Homo sapiens: one gene and its partners. The protein of the gene in region 1 interacts with the protein of each later gene in a pairwise test. Each region holds a gene or a part of one and is shown on either strand. Other genes may lie near its edges.

Evidence for each region.
Region 2: the proteins of KRTAP17-1 (region 1) and PRKAB2 interact in binary tests that used the Homo sapiens proteins (3 or more experiments, as listed by UniProt).
Region 3: the proteins of KRTAP17-1 (region 1) and ZNF696 interact in binary tests that used the Homo sapiens proteins (3 or more experiments, as listed by UniProt).

The regions. Positions count from the first base shown.
Region 1 is NC_000017.11:41,314,263-41,317,683, forward strand, and holds KRTAP17-1 (keratin-associated protein 17-1), read right to left. Parts: upstream 1,449-3,421; 5' UTR 1,389-1,448; coding exon 1,071-1,388; 3' UTR 650-1,070; downstream 1-649. UniProt on the Homo sapiens protein: In the hair cortex, hair keratin intermediate filaments are embedded in an interfilamentous matrix, consisting of hair keratin-associated proteins (KRTAP), which are essential for the formation of a rigid and resistant hair shaft through their extensive disulfide bond cross-linking with abundant cysteine residues of hair keratins.
Region 2 is NC_000001.11:147,165,779-147,169,527, forward strand, and holds part of PRKAB2 (5'-AMP-activated protein kinase subunit beta-2), read right to left. Parts: intron 2,156-3,749; coding exon 1,989-2,155; intron 1,162-1,988; coding exon 1,068-1,161; intron 841-1,067; coding exon 720-840; intron 1-719. UniProt on the Homo sapiens protein: Non-catalytic subunit of AMP-activated protein kinase (AMPK), an energy sensor protein kinase that plays a key role in regulating cellular energy metabolism.
Region 3 is NC_000008.11:143,289,354-143,293,102, reverse strand, and holds the start of ZNF696 (zinc finger protein 696), read right to left. Parts: upstream 1,687-3,749; 5' UTR 1,336-1,686; intron 132-1,335; 5' UTR 102-131; coding exon 38-101; intron 1-37.

The DNA of each region.
Region 1 (3,421 bases):
GAGGCTGGAAGAAGGAACTGTACTGCGCAGAACATCCTCAGAAACTGTGAATTCACTAGCTTTGCCATTAGAAATCCTTTCCATTCAGAACCAATCTTGTTTTACCAAAGCCTCCTTTCCGACTTTGCCAGAAAGTTCTGATCAAGCCTGAAGCCCTCCTGCAGAACCATCCTAGGAGAGCTGTAGTGCAGAAGAAAGCCATGCCCCTCAATCACCATTAAATGTGGCCAGCATCAGCATTCACCCAGGAGCTTTTAAAAATGCAGGTCCCTAGGGACTCTAGGCCCTAGAGCTAACGGGTAAAATCTCCAGTGATAAAACCCAATGATCTATATTTTTAAAAGCTTTTCAAGTGAATCTCATGCAGCACACGGAAGCTTCCGTCTAGATCTATGGTTCTCAAACTTCAGTGCATAAGAATTATCTAAGGTTCTTGTTAAAAACACAGATTCCCAGGCCACACTTTGGTGGATTCTGATTCTGTATGTCTTAGGGAGGGCCTCAGAGTCTCCAGTTTTAACAAGCTCCCAGGTGATTCCGACGCAGGTGATCCAAAAACCACAATTCAAAAACCCTAAGGCAGATGCCAGAGTGAATTTTTCTAACCCAGTCCTCAGCAGGGAGGTCAAGGAAGAGGCAAGAGAACTAATTAGGTTATGCCAGCATGCTCAAATTTATTAAGAGGCTCACAAAGAAGATGGACCTTTTTTGCATCTCAAAGCTGCAGAAAGCCAGGGCGGAGGATCAGTCCCAAAGACACCTTGAAGAAGAGGATGTCTTATAGTACAAGACATTGAACTTCATGTGAATAAGTAAAGTATTGGGGATTCACCCTTGAGCTTGGGATCACTTAGTTGTGACCGAGTTTTAATGTTTCATCAGAGTATGGCTCTTGTTCTCGGTGCCTTGAAATACCAGAGAAGGTGTTGGAGAACAAGCCCTCCTCTACAAATCACAGAAAGACAAGACACTGTCTTGGGGGTATGGAAGGTTCTGGACACGAGGGGCTGTCCCCCTGGAGCAGATGGAGGCTTTCGGTGGGACTGCATCAGTGGTGGAGGGAAAGGTCTTCATTTTGTGTCGCATATAGGTGTGGGCTGGCAGCACACAGGCCCACAGCACCCGGAGCCGCAGCAACTGGACCCACAGCAACTGGATCCACAGCAGCCACCCCCGCAGCCTCCGCAGCCTCCACAGCCTCCGCAGCCAGATCCACAGCAAGACGATCCGCAGCAGCTGCCCCCGCAGCCAGAGCCCCCGCAGCCAGAGCCCCCACAGCCACAGCAGGAGCCGCAGCAGCCACAGCAGCCCGGCTGACAGCAGCACTCTTCACAGCAGTTTTGCTCCTGGGTGCAGCAGGTGAAGCAGTCCCCCGGGCAGCACCCCATGGTCCGGGCCCGTCAGCTCGCAGGTCGGTAACGCAGCCGGAGTTCCCCACGACTGACGGTGGCCAGCCATCTGGATGGCAGCTTTTATATCCCCTCACCCAGGCATGAGGGACGGGATGTTTTCTTTGTTATTATTTATGCAAGTTTCCATAAGACCGGCTCATTAACTGGCTGTTTATTTTCCAGTCCTGAGTACCTCAACTCATAAAAACGCCCCACTCCTGCCAACTGCTGTTTATCCAGAGGGTAAAAATACATCTTCGAAAAGACCTGTCATCATGGCCAAGCATCTGCCAGCTGTCATTAGCCCAGGTTGGAGATGGGAAGGGGAAGCCGGCCACAGCTTCTGGCTCTGGAATGAGGGGCTTGCCTTCCACATCTTCGCAGGTTGGCGATGGACCCCATCTTCCATGGATGCTAGTCCTGGAAAGGCAGACCGGCAACAGCCGAATGCTCTGTTCCCCCTGACACCAGTGGAGGCTACTGAGAACGCCTGGTCACGTGGCTCCTCCCAGGTGGAAATGGCATCCTCATCCCGGTTCATGTGAGCCAGGCAAATGTTTGTGTCTGTGTGTGGTATGGGGAGTGTGCCACACGTTTAGGCTTGGCCGGTGAGCATCAGTCATGAGTAATAACTGCCCTGTGAAACCGAGAGAGACTCATCGTAAAGCTGCAAGAAGCTGGTAAGGCATGGTCTGTCTCGGCGGCAAGGTGAGCTGAATATTCGCACTTCTCTCTAAATAGGTGGGAAGAACTGAGATCAGAACCCTCTACCCACCCCCACTCCAGCCCCAGGCCTTTCCTTGACCGGGGAAGGAAGAGATGCAGGAGGAGGAAGAAGAGGAGAAGGGGAGGAAGAAAGGAAAGAAGAAAAGAAAGAAGAAAGCAGGAAGGAGATCAGTAAATATCCAAAATGCTACATTAAAATGGGAATGTAACGCACTTTTTTTAAGAGTTCGAACCTTATAGACCATCTGGCAGAAGGAGAAATTAGAATACAAAATACCCAGAGTGTCATCCCAAGGAATAAAATGCCTTTGCAAGGAGTCTAAAATCTACAGATGGTTCAGGTCCATGTGTAAATTTTGAGATGGGTCAAAATTTCTGTCTCTTTCTTGGACTTTGGTACCTTGTTCTCCTCTTGGAGTGCCCATGGCAGCCCTGGAGCTGGAATACAACATCTAGTAGGGGTAGAGGACAGAAGATAGGGGTGGGGTGGGAATGGAAGGAGGGATGGGAGTAAGGATCTGGATCAAGGGATCTAGTCCTTCCCTTTTCATTTCCCTTTCTTTGTAAGATGGGCTAGAAGTAAGACAGCCTCTAAGAAGGGCTAGAAGAACTAAGGACAGGGTGGGAGTCGGGAGGGTAAATGATGAATGAGTTACTTGGATCTGATATGATACTCAATACTTCACAGGATATGGAATTTTAGAGCTGGGAGGAACCCCTGAAACATCATCTGGTCCAGGGTTTTATATCAGAATTGCCTAAAAGGGGGCCTTTTGAAAAATACAGATTCCCAAACTGTATTCCAGTCCTTATGATAAATCAGAATGTGTGCTTATGAGAGCTTGAGAAGCTATATATTTTAAACTTTCTCAGGTAACTTGGGTTACATTAGGAAACACTGATATAATCTAATCCTATCATGACCATCACTGCCAAGCACTTGTGTTTTACAGAAGATGATACCAAGGCCCAGAGATGACACATCCGTGGTAGATTGGACCCATGGCCCAGATGTTCTCCCTCCTGGTCCACTGTTTCTTCCACCATACCACATCCACAGATGGGCACCTCTGAGTGAGTATAATACAGCAATGTCTATGGCAGACGTGTCCTTTTTTGTTTGTTTGTTTGTTTTTTTGAGATGGAGTCTCACTCTGCTGCCCAGGCTGGAGCGCAGTAGCTTGATCTTGGCTCATGGCAACTTCCGCCTCCTGGGCTCAAACGATGCTCCTGACTTAGCCTCCCAAGTACCTGGGATTACAGGCACGCACCAACAAGCCCAGCTAATTGCTGTATTTTTAGTA
Region 2 (3,749 bases), on another chromosome or scaffold:
AATTGTCAGGGGGCAGGGGGGTGGTTGTCTTGTTTTTGAGGCAGTATCTCACTCTGCTGCCCAGGCTGGAGTGAGGAGGCTCAAACATGCTTCACAGCAGCCTCGACCTCCTGGGCTCAAGCAATCCTCACGCCTCAGCCTCCCAAATTGTTGGGACCACAGGCATGTGCCATTACGCTCGGCTAATTTTTAAAAATTTTTTGTAGAGATGGGTCTTGCCATATTGCCCAGGCTGTTGGTTTTTTAAACCATTTTTTTCCCCACATTTTTTGGACCTCATAAAATCATGAAACTGCTAACTGAGGTCTCAAACTGGCAGGATTAAGATGGGGCAAACCAAACAAACTACACACATGTATCGCCTCTGCTGGGTAATATCATCAAAGGTCAGTGGAAAACTTGAAATATTACTAGAAACAGCTTTTCAAACTATAGGCTGTAGCCCATTAGTGATTATAAAAGATAACATGGAAAATAGAGTGTATCCCATGTAATAAGGTAAACATTGTATCATGAGACTTGTGTTACAATGTGTGTGTTTGTGTTTGCTGCAAATAAGAGACCTAAATGTTTACAGGAGAAAAATCTCTGTCTCTCTCTCTCCTCCCCCCAACCCCCTGCTCTCTCTCTCCCTCTATATGTATATACACACATAAACAACTTTTAGGAAGGAACTACAAGAAAGACACAGCAAGAGAGAGTAAATAATACAAAATTACCTCTACAAGATGTCTCAGAACTTTCCATAGAATCTAACTTTAAAGCATCGAACACCTCAAAATCAGATTTCTTGACATGGATCAAATTGTTAATTGTGCCAAGCTGACTGGTAACCACAGGCTGAAACAGTGAATAGAAAAAATTATTGAATCTCTCTTTCAAATCCATCTCTTCCATCCAACCTTCCTCTTTTACTAAAATTTACACGATTGTTCTCAGCACCTCCACGTTTTATCAAGAGAGAAATCCTCCAGTGTAGGGGAGCAGCTGCCCATCAGTCTTGACAGAAATGACAGCTAAAATGAGACTGCTAAGTCAATGGTTACCCTTGGAGATCAAGGCCTTACCTCTGATGGATCATGAACCCACTGTCCATCCACAAAGAACTTGTATTGGTGCTCTCCCTCAGGGAGGTCCAGGATGGCAACAAAGTCATTATGGCTACAGAAGAAAAAAGAAAGGCAAACAGGCCAAGTTCCTTTTAGAAGACTGAATCTAAAAAACAAGTGGCAATCATAGTATCATATGAATAATTTCCCAGATTCCTAAGCCATTGTATCCCCTGGTGTAAAAAACAACGTATAAACCCATTCTCCTTTTCTGTATCATCTTGGACATGTATTTACCAGCTCCTCCCAACAACGTTAGTTCTTAACCAATATCTGGAAAAGAATAATAAAAACATTAATCCCCTCAAATGGTTCACCTTAGTATAACTTACTTTGCTTCAGTAGAACAAGTTCCTCACCAGTGCAAATAAGATAGGTAGGTTTAGGATACAGAAGTGCCTCAAGGTACTCTTTCCCTGTTTTGGTGAACCTTTTCTAGAGAATGAACTACCATACAAAGGGCCATTCTGACAACCAGTTAAATCACTCATTATTGCTTTGGAAGCAACAAATAACATGACTACCTAAAAATTCAAAATGTGTTTTGCTTTAGTGCAGAAGTCAGAGCAACAAGACTCAGACAGTTACAAAAGACTTCCCACAAGCATAGACAGGACTTGTATGACATAGTCCTAAAGAATGTAGCCATAAAGCTATTATGAATCCCTCTGAGGCAATGAAATTCTAAAGGGTAAAACATCTCTGACTCACTATGAGGTTAAAAAAAAATCCCACAGATATACTAAGTGGCCGCAGAAAAGGGCATGTTCTAGAGACAGTCCTTAGTAGGTGGAGAAAAGTCCAGCTGGGTCTCTCTTCTGAGAAAAGAAATCAGGTCTCTATTCCTGGACCCTTAGATTCAACCAAGACACTTGTCACCTCTTAATCAGTGGAATCTTGGTGCTCCAATTGTTGAAGGACCCAGAGATGAAGACCTCCTTGCCTCCTTCAGACCAGCGGATAACAGTGGGCCGGGCCTGCTGTGTGGGCTTTACGGAGTCCTCCAAATCCTGCTGCCATGATACAAACTCTTTGTCCCCAGGGAGCTGTAAGAAGGAGTAGGTCATCCCTAGAATAAACTGTGACCCAAGAATTCTAAAAAGGTCACTCTCCTCCCTAGGATAGAGAAGGGTGCTAGGCTTTGGCTAAGGATATAAACCCCAAAATTAGCAACTAAATCAGAGTTTGAACAAATTATAGAAAAAGAACTCATCTAGGACCAAAAATGGTCAAATGGCCTATGCTCAAGCACTGCCTAAATCATAGCCTAACTTTTGAGTCTACCTGTGTCACTTACCCTTCCAGAGCCTTAGACTCTCCCTTAAAAAAAAAAGAAAAAAATAACTCCCTACCACTAGTTTAACTCATAGGCAGGCAATTATGATATGCTTCTGAGTCTTTCTTCAGAGGAAAAAAAAATGAAAACAAAGTATGGTTCTGTAAAAGATAATTAAGTCAGCCATATATTTTTATAGGCAAATATGAATAGCTCTCAATTACCAGTTGTAATGGAAGTCAGAGATATCAAAATTCATAAGTAATTCATAAACTGTATTTCAGCTAAGAAGTAAAAAGAAGAAACATTAAAAATTCAAAAACTAGATCACTGATTTCTTAAAACTTGAGAAGTGGCTATGAAATCTTACTTATTCCCCTATCCCAGGCTTATACTAATTATTTCAGGAGTAGGAATAAAAATTCTAGAACCTCAAGAAGCAAGAGATCAAAAATACAATTTCCTTTATCAAAAGTAGCTCTCTTATCAAATGAGGTTTATGGGATTGTAAAAACAGTAACTCCTGTTTCTTTTCATTACTATCCTTTGGACCAAGAGTTGGCAGACAGCCAGTAAGCCAGATGCTTTTATCAAGTGTTATTTGAAAACAGCTCTGCCCATTTGTTTACCTATTATTTTACTGATTGATTGATTGAGAAAGGACCTTGCTCTGTCACCCAGGCTGGAATGCAGTGAGTGGTGTAATCATAGCTCACTGCAGCCTCGAACTCCTGGGCTCAAGCCATCTTCCCACCTCAGCTTCCAGAGAAGCTGAGACTAGAGGTGTGAACCAACATACCTGCCTTGCTTACCTATATTGTCTATAGCTGCTTACAGGCTACAGTGGCAGAATTGCGTAGCTATAACAGAGACTGTATGGTCTACAAAGTCTAAACTATTTACTATCTGGCCCTTTACAGAAAGATTGCTGACCCCTATTTTAGACTGGTTTAAGTGACTTTGGTAAATAAGACTGTATAGTATTAAGCCTAAATATTACTAAATTGAATAATGTGGGTTTTTTTTTAAAAAAAGGACTAGCTTATTCATTTGGGCTTTCTTTTCAAAATGGTTGACATAGCTTCCCTCCATACATTCTCTTGATATTCCTCAAAACTACAGTATAGCATATCAGTAGCAGGATAATCCAAAGTAAATAGAGAAAGAGAATTGAAAGGACTTTCACATAAGGAATTGACTTAAGAGAAAACTACATATTCTCAGAACAATGCACTCTTGACTAACTGGCTGCGTTAGAATTACAAGAATTTGACATATGCCTAAGAATAACCCTCAGATTCGGATGTAAGATCTGGGAACCTATTTTTAAAAAGCTTTCTAGATAACACTGTGATTATGTTAAA
Region 3 (3,749 bases), on another chromosome or scaffold:
TGGAACTCTGGGCCCGACTGTGGACATGTCCCCTCACCTGCAAGGGACTCCATCAGGGTACTGCTCTCTTTAGCACCTGTGGGCTCTCCTCCTGGCTCCATCTTGCAGAACACCAGCAGTTGGAACAATTTCTGCTTAGGTAAAAGAAAAGGAAAATAAATCACAGCCAGGGCTAGGTACAGGGGCCAGGGGCAGTGAGGTCAGAATGCCTTCAGAGGAAACTGTCAGAACAGGCCCTGTGGGAGCTGCATCACCCAGCTGGGCCCACTCCTGTCACTAGCAATCAAGGTCCTGGCTCAACAGACACTCCCAGAAGCGGGTGTTCTGTTCTGTGGGATGCCCAGGAACTCTGGTCCAGGCTCTGCGGGTCCCCCTCCACCCAGGGCTGACGCAGAGCACAGGTGGGCGTGGCCACAGCTTCCTAGCTCCATGCTGAGGAAGCCCGCGCCCTCCAGCAGTCTTCAAATGTCTAGAGAAATTCCCATGGGTTTTAAAATTTTCTTGGTAGTTATAAGGATTTGAATATAAAAATGTTAAACCAGAAGAAAAGAACAACTTATTTGAATGGTAAAGTTTTGGAATGAGGAATGATTTTTCTAAGCCTGACATCAGATGTCTGACAAATTCAACTACATAAAAAAATTTAATGTAAAAAAAAAAAACCAAAAAGGGAGGAATACGTGCAATGCAAAGATTCATCCCTATCTGATAAAGACCTCTATATATTAATGAGAAAGGAAGGAAAATTGGCAAAGATCATGAATAGGTAACTCACAAAGAAGAAAAACCAGTAGGCAATACATTTTTTTAGGTCTCACCTCAAGTGCAATTAAGAAATGTAATTTGGCTGGGTGCTGTGGCTCACAGTTGTAATCCTAGCACTTCAAAAGGCTCAGGATGGAGGACTGACTGATTACAAGAGTTCCTGACCAGCCTGGGCAACATAGTGAGACCCCGTCTCTACAAAAAATCAAAAAATTAGCCAGGTGTGATGGTGGGCGTCTGTAGTCCCAGCTACTAGGGAGGCTGAGGTGGGAGGACTGCCTGAGCCCAGGAGGTCTAGGCTGGGGTGAACCGAGATTTCGCCACTGCACTCCAGCTGGGCGTTGGAGTGAGACCCTGTCTTAAAAAAATAAGTAAATAAAGTGATTAATTAGTAAATTTAATTTAAGCCGCCTGTAATCCCGCCTGCCAGGGAGGCTGAGCGGGAGGATCGCTTGAGCCCAGGAGTAGGAGGCCAGCCTGGGAAACATAGCGAGACCCCGCCGCTTTTACAAAAAGGTAATTTAAAGTGCAATTTTTTAGTCTGGAAGCAGATTTTTGCAAGTACCTTACCGGCAAGAATTAGGGAACAGGCCCTCCTGTTCACAGCTGGGAAGAAGCTCGATGAGCTGGGCCGGTGGGAAATTTGACAACTTACAAAGGCCTGAAGACGCGCAGCGGGGACTCAGCTCGCAGGAAGCCCCGCACGTGTCGGACCCCGGGTACGCACCTGCAGGGCCGCCTCCCCCACGCCGCGCCCGAGAGCGGCTGGGGCCTGCACTGCAAGGAGAGCGCGGGACGCGCGGGCCACGGCGGCGGTGACCGCCCCGTTCTCTCGGCCGCGCCCTCAGCCCTCCCGAATCGACACCCCAGCAAGAGAAGCCGGGGCCTCAGCGTCCAGAGCAGCTGGACTGCACCCGCTACGGTCCCCGCCCCGTCGCGCGCCGGAAACGCCAGTCTCCACCCCTGGCCCGCCCCCTCGGCACTTCCGGCGACGCTCTGGGCAGCGGGAGGACAGCGCGCTCGGCGGCGGGAGAGCGGGACGGCCCAGCCGCGGCGCCTTCAGCTCATCGGTTGCCCGCAGGCGCCGGCCGAGTCCTTCCTGCCGGGCAGGAAGCCCTGCCTCGTGGGGGGCAAGGTCGAGCCGTTGGCGCGCCGGGATCCGGCTCGAGCCAACTGAGGACCGGGCACCCGCAGGACGTGTCAGGAGGTGTCGAAGGCCCGCTGTGGGGCGGCCACGCGCGTTCCCGTCCGTTCCCCGCGGCGTCCCGCGCTTGTCCCGGGTCCCGCTCGGCTCACGGGACCCTCCAGGCCCCCGGGGCTGTGGCAGCACGCGGGTCCCGAGCGTGGGCTTCCTTGGGGCCGAGAGCTTGGAGCGCCCCAGGCGCTGCCCCCCGCCTCCCTGCAGGACGCCGCCCTCGCGTCTCCGCTGCAGAGAAGCCCTTGCTGCCCGCCTCTCGCGGGCTCTGGGCTCTTTCTCACCAGGGACCGAGCTCTCATTCGTTCAGCCTTCCCCGGGCAAGATGCACCTCCTGTCCAAGTCTCTCGCCCTTCCGCCTGCCGCAGACCGAAGGTCACGCATCTCCAGCTGGAATGCTGCAAAAGTGACGCTTTTCATCATGGGTGCAAAGTGTACAGCTGCAATGTGGACTTGTTCCCTCTTACAACGAGTAGACAGACCCTCTCTGGGGAGAAAAGAAAGGCTGAAGAACCGATTCCCATGAGAGAACCCTAAGAAGACAGCAACAGAGGGCCAGACGCGCCCCTGGAACTGGACCCTGGACTGGGGCGGGAGGGCCACAGCCTTGGGAGCCCAGGTCCCTGCCCGCGCCTCCGACAGTCCCGCGCCGCCGCCACCCGGCATCTGCCTCTGGGCCTCCACATCTCGTGCCTGGAACCGCGTTCATTGCGCACTGCACCAGTAAACACCTGAACACTCCCACCACATGCTGCACGTTTATTTGTAACAAATTAGAAGCTGTTGTAAAAGATAAAAATTAAAACACTTAGACTGGGTGGGCGAGAGGCTCATGAATGTAATCCCAGCACTTTGGGAGGCCAAGGCAGGAGGATTGTTTGAGTCCAGGAGTTTCAGACCAGCCTGAGCAACATAGTTAGAACCGTGTCGACTAAAAATTTTTTTTAAAAATTAGCCGGGCGTGGTGGCCGGCGCCTGTGGTACCAGCTACTCGGGAGGCTGAGGCGGGGGGACCACTTGAGCTCGGGAGGCGGAGGCTGCAGTGAGCCGAGATTGGCACTGCACTCCAGCCTGGGTGACAGAGATTCTGTCGCAAAACAAAAACAACAACAACAACACACACCACACACACACACATCTAAAAGAGATGATGTAGAAGTACAAGTAACCGTTTCCCTCTGCATCCCAGTGGAACGTCGTGGGTCTTCTGAAGACCCTCTCTTGCCCTGCAGGCTCCGGTACTCCAAGCACGCGAGTCTGCGCAGGAGGCGCTTCGCTCTCCGGAGCTCCCCACTGCCTCCTAGACACAGTCCCGGCTCCTTACCCCGGGCGGAGGCTCTTCCAGACGGGTCCCGACTGCCTCTGTATGCCCACTGCTGCCGTGCCAGAAGCCACTGCCCTCTCCTCGCCCCTTTCCAAATGTGCCCTGCCTCAGGCCCGTGTCATGCTGTTCCCTGTGCCGCTTTCGCCCGTCCCCTCACTCCCCGCCACCAGAACCGGGAAGGCGGTGCCCCCTTTCCAGGCCCAACTTCCGGCACTGAACCTCTAGGAGTCCGCAGCCTCCTCCGCCCGGGCCTCTCCCCGCTGGCTCAGACCGCAGGGCCAGCAGCCCCGCCCACACGGAAGCCCCGCCCATCAGGCCGACCCCGCCCCTCCTGCCTCGGCCCCGCCCTCGCCTTGGCCCCGCCTCCTCGCTGGCAGCCGGCAGGCGCAGTCGGGGTCGTGGGACCCAGGAGGGGCCTCCAGCAGGTGCCTTGGCGAAGATCCTGGACTGCGTCACAGCCCAGGG